Homo sapiens: one gene and its partner. The protein of the gene in region 1 purifies or fractionates together with the protein of each later gene. This does not show direct contact. Each region holds a gene or a part of one and is shown in the gene's direction. Other genes may lie near its edges. The genes, in order: SIPA1L3 and ITGA6.

Evidence for each region.
Region 2: the proteins of SIPA1L3 (region 1) and ITGA6 purify together in Homo sapiens (affinity purification with mass spectrometry; one large-scale study listed by BioGRID and IntAct). This does not show direct contact.

The regions. Positions count from the first base shown.
Region 1 is NC_000019.10:38,081,520-38,085,337, forward strand, and holds part of SIPA1L3 (signal-induced proliferation-associated 1-like protein 3), read left to right. Parts: 5' UTR 1-46; coding exon 47-1,580; intron 1,581-3,818. UniProt on the Homo sapiens protein: Plays a critical role in epithelial cell morphogenesis, polarity, adhesion and cytoskeletal organization in the lens.
Region 2 is NC_000002.12:172,472,467-172,476,284, forward strand, and holds part of ITGA6 (integrin alpha-6 isoform b preproprotein), read left to right. Parts: intron 1-307; coding exon of another isoform or gene 308-424; intron 425-1,588; coding exon 1,589-1,799; intron 1,800-2,462; coding exon 2,463-2,656; intron 2,657-3,130; coding exon 3,131-3,219; intron 3,220-3,818. UniProt on the Homo sapiens protein: Integrin alpha-6/beta-1 (ITGA6:ITGB1) is a receptor for laminin on platelets. Integrin alpha-6/beta-1 (ITGA6:ITGB1) is present in oocytes and is involved in sperm-egg fusion.

The DNA.
Region 1 (3,818 bases):
GACACCACAGCGTACGGGGCCAGCAGCACTCCAGTGCCCGTGGACTATGACCACCTATCGGGCCATCCCCAGCGATGGTGTGGACCTGGCAGCCAGCTGTGGCGCCAGGGTGGGCGATGTCCTCCCTGGGCCACACACAGGGGACTACGCTCCCTTGGGATTCTGGGCCCAGAATGGCAGCATGTCCCAGCCTCTTGGCGAGAGCCCGGCCACCGCCACCGCCACCGCCACCGCCACCACCCGCCCCAGCCCCACCACTCCCGCAATGCCCAAGATGGGCGTGCGCGCAAGGGTGGCCGACTGGCCGCCCAAGCGGGAGGCCCTGAGAGAGCACAGCAACCCAAGCCCCTCCCAGGACACAGATGGCACAAAGGCCACCAAGATGGCCCATTCCATGAGGAGCATACAGAACGGACAGCCCCCCACCAGCACCCCGGCTTCCTCAGGGTCCAAAGCCTTCCACCGACTCTCCAGGAGAAGGTCCAAAGACGTGGAGTTCCAGGACGGGTGGCCCCGGTCCCCCGGCAGGGCCTTCCTCCCCCTTCGGCACCGCAGCAGCAGCGAGATCACCCTCAGCGAGTGTGACGCGGAGGACGCGGGGGAGCCGCGGGGGGCCCGGCACACGGGGGCGCTGCCCCTCTTCCGCGAGTACGGGAGCACCTCGTCCATCGACGTGCAGGGCATGCCCGAGCAGAGCTTCTTCGACATCCTGAACGAGTTCCGCAGCGAGCAGCCCGACGCCCGAGGGTGCCAGGCCCTCACCGAGCTCCTCCGGGCAGATCCTGGCCCACACCTCATGGGGGGCGGCGGCGGAGCCAAGGGGGACTCCCACAACGGGCAGCCCGCCAAGGACAGCCTCCTGCCACTGCAGCCCACGAAGGAGAAGGAGAAGGCCCGGAAGAAACCTGCGCGGGGCCTCGGCGGCGGGGACACGGTGGACTCGTCCATCTTTCGGAAGCTAAGGAGCAGCAAACCCGAGGGGGAGGCTGGGCGTTCCCCGGGGGAGGCCGACGAGGGCCGGAGCCCCCCGGAAGCCAGCAGGCCGTGGGTGTGTCAGAAGAGCTTCGCCCACTTCGACGTGCAGAGCATGCTGTTCGACCTCAACGAGGCGGCCGCCAACAGGGTGTCGGTGTCGCAGCGGCGGAACACCACCACGGGTGCTTCGGCCGCTTCCGCCGCCTCGGCCATGGCCTCCCTCACGGCCTCGCGGGCCCACAGCCTCGGAGGCCTGGACCCGGCCTTCACCAGCACAGAGGACCTAAACTGCAAGGAGAACTTGGAGCAGGACCTCGGCGATGACAACAGCAACGACCTGCTGCTCAGCTGCCCGCACTTCCGCAATGAGATCGGGGGCGAGTGTGAGCGCAACGTGAGCTTCTCCCGGGCTTCCGTGGGCTCCCCGAGCAGCGGCGAGGGCCACCTGGCAGAGCCCGCCCTGAGCGCCTACCGCACCAACGCCAGCATCTCGGTGTTGGAAGTTCCCAAGGAGCAGCAGCGGACGCAGAGTCGGCCCCGGCAGTACAGCATCGAGCATGTGGACCTGGGCGCCCGCTACTACCAGGATTACTTCGTGGGCAAAGGTGACGGATGGCGTGTGGGTGGGAAGGTTGGGTGGGCCGAGGCTTGCCTCCGAGACCCCCACTACTCATTCATTCACTCTGTGCCAGGCCCTGCTCTGGCACTGAGGATGTGGCGGGAACAGAGACCTCCCTTCTGGAGGGCTGTGAGGATCCGGTGAGCAGAGCCACCCGGGCCTCAGCCCTGTGTCTGACACAGCAGCACTCCATAAACCTTGAGCTACAGGACACAGCTCTGCATTTACTCAGCACATATGGACTTGGGGACAGCTCAGTGCCAGGCACTCTCTAGAGCCTGGGGATGTAGTATCAACCAGCTTAAAACAAATGTTCTGTCTTCCTAGTACTTATAATGTTTTCATGGGTAACACAAACATAGAACAGGATAAATACGAAAAATACACAAGGGATTGTAGGCTGCTAAATGCAGTGGAAAAGAGTACAGCAGGGAAGAAGGAAATGGAGTGTCGGAGGGTGGGGGCAGATCCCAGTGGGGGATGGTCAGAGGGGGCCTCCGAGGCAGGTGCAGTTTGAGTACCAAGCTGAAGTCACCATGTGCAAATTGCAGACACTGTTCCCAGAACAGAGCAGCGAATACAAAAGTCTTGGAACTGCCCGGCGCAGTGGCTCACGCCTGTAATCCCAGCACTTTGGGAGGCTGAGGCAGGCGGATCACTTGAGGTCAGGAGTTCAAGACCAGCTTGGCCAACATGGTGAAACCGCATCTCTACTAAAAATACAAAAAAATTAGCCAGGCATGGTGACATGTGGCTGTAATCCCAGCTACTTGGGAGGCTGAGGTAGGAGAATCGCTTGAACCCAGGAGGCAGATGTTGCGGTGGGCTGAGATCATGCCACTGCACTCCAGCCTGGGTGACAGAGTGAGACTCTGTCTCAAAAAAAAAAAAAAAAAAAAATTGAGAATTGCTTGTAACTGCTAGTAACAGGCTTAAACAACATAGAAGGGACTCTCCTGTGAAGAAATCCAGAGTTCAGCAGCCCAGGGCTGGTATGGTCAGTCTTAAGCATCAGTATGGTCAGCCTTAGTGCATGGCATGATCCCCCACTGCTCCACACCAAGATGGCTGCTGGAGTGCCAGGCGTCACATCTGTGTTTCCAGGCAGAGAAAAAGAGGAAAGGGTAAGGACAAAAAGGCAGACCTCTTGTCAAGTCAACCCCCTTATGCCCTTATGCCTAGTGTTTCATTATTGGAACGCTAAGCATGTGGGAGTTATAGCCTACTGCTCAAGGACATTGCCAGGGTCTGAATTTTTACTTGTGGAAAAATTCAAAAAATTGCAGCCTCCGGCATAAATGCGTTAAAGAGCTTTCTCAGAAGCCCGGTCCAACTACTTGCACTTAGTGGCCACACCTGTGTGCAAAAGAGGCTGGGAAACGCAGGTTTTTAGCTAGACAAAGTTTTTCTTTTCCAAGAATAGAGGGCTTTTCTTAAAAAAAAAAAAAAAAAAAAAAGACGAAGTACTAGCAGCTAGTACCCCACAGCAGCTAGGTTTTTTTTTGTTGTTTTTTTCTTTTTCTTTTTTTTTTTTTTTTTTTGAGGCAGTCTCGCTCTGTCGCCTCGCCCAGGCTGGAGTACAGTGGCGCGATCTCAGCTCACTGCAGCCTCTGCCTCCTGGGTTCACGCGATTCTCCTGCCTCAGCCTCCTGAGTAGCTGGGATTACAGGCGCTCGCTATCATGCCCAGCTAATTTTTGTAGTTTTAGTAGAGACAGGGTTTCTCCATGTTGGCCAGGCTGGTCTCGAACTCCTGACCTCAGGTGATCCACCCACCTTGGCCTCCCAAAGAGTTGGGATTACAGGCGTGAGCCACCATGCCCAGCTCACAGCAACTAGTTTTTAAAAATATTTAAAGTAATATCCTTGTCAAACATAACAAATGTCAGTTAAGTCATCCCACAGGACACTGGAGCTCCAACTTGGAGTCAGACAGCCCTCGGTTTGGGGTATCTGTTCCATAGCTGATCCACGTGATACGTTTTACCCTTCAGACTGTGTGACAAATGAAGATGATTATATCAATATCACATGCACAAACAGAATGACACAGAGATTGAAAAGAAAGGGATAAAAAAGAAGTTCCAGGCCGGGCACGGTGGCTCACGCTTGTAATCCCAGCACTTTGGGAGGCCAAGGTGGGTGATCACAAGGTCAGGAGATTGAGACCATCCTGGCTAACACGGTGAAACCCTGTCTCTACTAAAAATACAAAAAATTAGCCG
Region 2 (3,818 bases), on another chromosome or scaffold:
CATTTTTTCTCAAACACATTTGCCACTTTTAGAATGGATTTCCTCAAAAGTGAATGCCTGAGAAAGAAATCAAATTCATATTGTTACATTCGGTTTGTCTGTACTGTGTGGAATCTGTCACTTCAAAAGATCAGAGGGTTTGGGGGAACAAAACGATCTGCTTGAGGTTTTGGAAGCTGGCAATGAGAGCAGCTTGCCGGATGCAGTGGTGGCCTCCTCATCCAGCGAGAACAGCAGTGGCTGTCCTGCCTCTTACCAAGCATAATTACTTTTTCTTCAATTTCTTCCGTCCCGTGCATGCGTACAGGCCTGCTGTTTTTGACCAGCGTTTCCTATACAGATCCTGATCAGTTTGTTTATAAAACACGGCCTCCCCGGGAGCAGCCTGACACATTCCCTGATGTGATGATGAATAGCTACCTAGGTTTGTGACCTCTGCGACGACAAATAAATTGTCTTGGTTGTGGTCATTAAATTTTTTTTTTTGATCCATACAGAGCATAAATCTTTTTATGCCCTATTTTGTTTCCATTGAAGCACACACAAAAAGCATGCCATGGCTGGGGCTCTGTGGCCAGATGGTTGTAAGAGCTGGACTCCATATTGCCCTCTAATCTGGTGGCTCATGTTTTTCAATTCACTTCACAATTTGAGAACTGCAACGGTAGTGGTGAAGCTTTTCATAAGTAAAACCCAATAAAGGGGGTGAGCTTATATTATTCTGCATCTGCCTCACCTTTCTATAGAAACATTTACTTAATTTGAATGGTTTTGATATGGGCACTTCTATTTGCTTTTCACCAGATCTGTTATTTGTAATCTGACATCCTACCTGATGCTTTATAATGGGTGTGTCCTAATGTTTTCTGCCCTCTGAACAAGTATATAACTGATACCAATGACAACTTCCTCACCTCTGTTGTTTATACTAGGTTCTCAAATACCATGTATCATCAGTCATTGTTTTGTCTGCATGTTTGTGTCTGAGAACTAAGTTGGTCCAAAACAATGAAATGCTATCTATGGTGTATTAATGATGTTAGCATTTGTTTTTGTCTGATTACCAAAGAGTTGATGCCTCTTACCAAGCTTAATTACTTTTTCTTCAATTTTATTTTATTCCTGTAAAAATACTGGTCATTAAATTACAGCAGAACCCTGTAACATGCACTCAATTATGCTTCCAGTCAGGTTATATATTCTCTGTGTATATGATGTAACATAACCAAATTATTCCTGGACAATTCAGTATCTAGCTTGATCTCCTTTTACCATAGTTCCAATATTAAAATAGGGTGGAAATTGATTCTTAAGATGTATGAATACTTCAAAATTCAAGTTATACATAGGTGCTTTTAGTTAAAAGTCTTAATATCCATAGAAAGCAGTAAATTAGCTAGCCCCAGGACTTTGTCCTTGTGTCACATCTGAACTCTGTCACTCATATTACGAATGTGATAGCTGGTGGGAGGGTCAAGAGGAGAGAGGGGTGGGAAGCCAGAGGAAGAGGTAATGATGGAGTTACCAATGTCATAGGCCTAAAATATATGGATTGATGTGAGGGGCTCTATATATTTTGTTTTTCTAGGTTTTTCTTTGGACTCAGGGAAAGGTATTGTTTCTAAAGATGAGATCACTTTTGTATCTGGTGCTCCCAGAGCCAATCACAGTGGAGCCGTGGTTTTGCTGAAGAGAGACATGAAGTCTGCACATCTCCTCCCTGAGCACATATTCGATGGAGAAGGTCTGGCCTCTTCATTTGGCTATGATGTGGCGGTGGTGGACCTCAACAAGGATGGGTGAGAAAGCCTCAGGTTATATTATGCTGCAAATCATTTCTGCTTTGACTAGCTTCTATACGACTGGAGAAGAGCCGTCCTTTCAGGTTCATTGACGTAAAGAATATTTTTATTGCCGCATTTTTACCAGCCTATCTTTATCATTTCTATGATGGCAGCAGACAGACATTCATATCCCTCCCCAGCGTATAGGATTATATTTTTGATTTTCAGTTTTTACTTATATGTTGGGATCATGAGTCTATGAGAATTAAAATTTGAAAAAAATTGACTCAGAAAACACTTGCATGATTCTGTTCTGTGGTTTCATATGGGGCTGATGGAGCATCAGCTCCCGTTGAAAACAGGAATTGGTGATAAAGTAAAAAACAGATATGTGGCTGTTGGTGCCAGTTGGGGGGGTTAGAACAGTGAGGTCTTAATGGGAGTCCTGCTGTACTATGGTTCTAACTCGAGAAATTGGCTTTGAGTTCTTACCCTTAGTATTTTTCTTGGGGCGTTTATTATAGGCTACCTTGGTTTTTAAAAAATGTTATAATTGAGTCATAAATTCTGGAGTTGAGGGCCTTTCTATTATATGTCTTTGTATCCTTAGTACCTAGACTGGTGTTGCTGGTATGTTAGCTGTTGGTTCACGGCTCTTTCCCCTCATTATGTTTTTAGGTGGCAAGATATAGTTATTGGAGCCCCACAGTATTTTGATAGAGATGGAGAAGTTGGAGGTGCAGTGTATGTCTACATGAACCAGCAAGGCAGATGGAATAATGTGAAGCCAATTCGTCTTAATGGAACCAAAGATTCTATGTTTGGCATTGCAGTAAAAAATATTGGAGATATTAATCAAGATGGCTACCCAGGTAGATAATAGATTATGAAATGGCTATGATTTATAGATTATTTGATTGTTTAAATAATAGCGCTGCTGGGCACAGTGGCTCACGCCTGTAATCCCAGCACTTTGGGAGGCTGAGGTGGGCGGATCACCTGAGGTCGGGAGTTCGAGACCAGCCTGACCAACATGGAGAAACTAAAAATACAAATTAACTGGGTGTGGTGGCACATGCCTGTAATACCAGCTACTCCCAGCTTTGGAAAGCTGAGGCAGGAGAATTGCTTGAACCCGGGAGGCAGTGGTTGCGGTGAGCCAAGATTGCGCCATTGCACTCCAGCCTGGGCAACAGGAGCGAAACTCCATCTCAAAAAAAACAAAAAAAAACCCCGAAAAAGCCAAACAAATAAATAATAGTGCTTGTGTCATCTTACTTTAAAACATTTTACTAGAGTGTTTCTAAAGCGTTTGTTAAAATGTTAAAATGTGATGTTGTCAACAGATATTGCAGTTGGAGCTCCGTATGATGACTTGGGAAAGGTTTTTATCTATCATGGATCTGCAAATGGAATAAATACCAAACCAACACAGGTAACCAAATAACCGGGATTTCTACAGCTAGAGTCTCAACTTTTTGCCCTATAATAAAATATTTAGGTTTAAGTGACTTTTCACACAAATCTTATTTTATTTACAAGTCCACAATAGTATAAATTTTTTAAAAATGTATTACTAGAAGATACCTTCAAAATAAATATATAAATGTAATGACTTGCTTGTTCTAATTGTAAAATTTCTTAGATAAGTTAGGAATCAAGGTAATCCAAAGCAAATGAATGTTATTCTACCCTGACGGCATTAAGATAAGAGGAAATACGATATATTCTCTTTAGTAGCATACTAAATAGAGATGAAATTGGTCAAACAAAATAAATGACTGTAACTACATGGAGAATGTAGACACCAAAAATTAAAAATGTCTTTTGAGAAAAATAAGACTTGTAGGGAAGGTAGGGAGATTTGGTTTGAAATGGCCTGATTGACTTAATACAATAAACAAGCTCATCAGAAATGGGCTCTTTTCTGCTTTGAGATACTATGTAAATCGGATGACTTTTATGAAATGAAATGTATGAAGTGTTAGATCATATAGAAATTTATGACTTGTATATAATATAATTTACTTATAA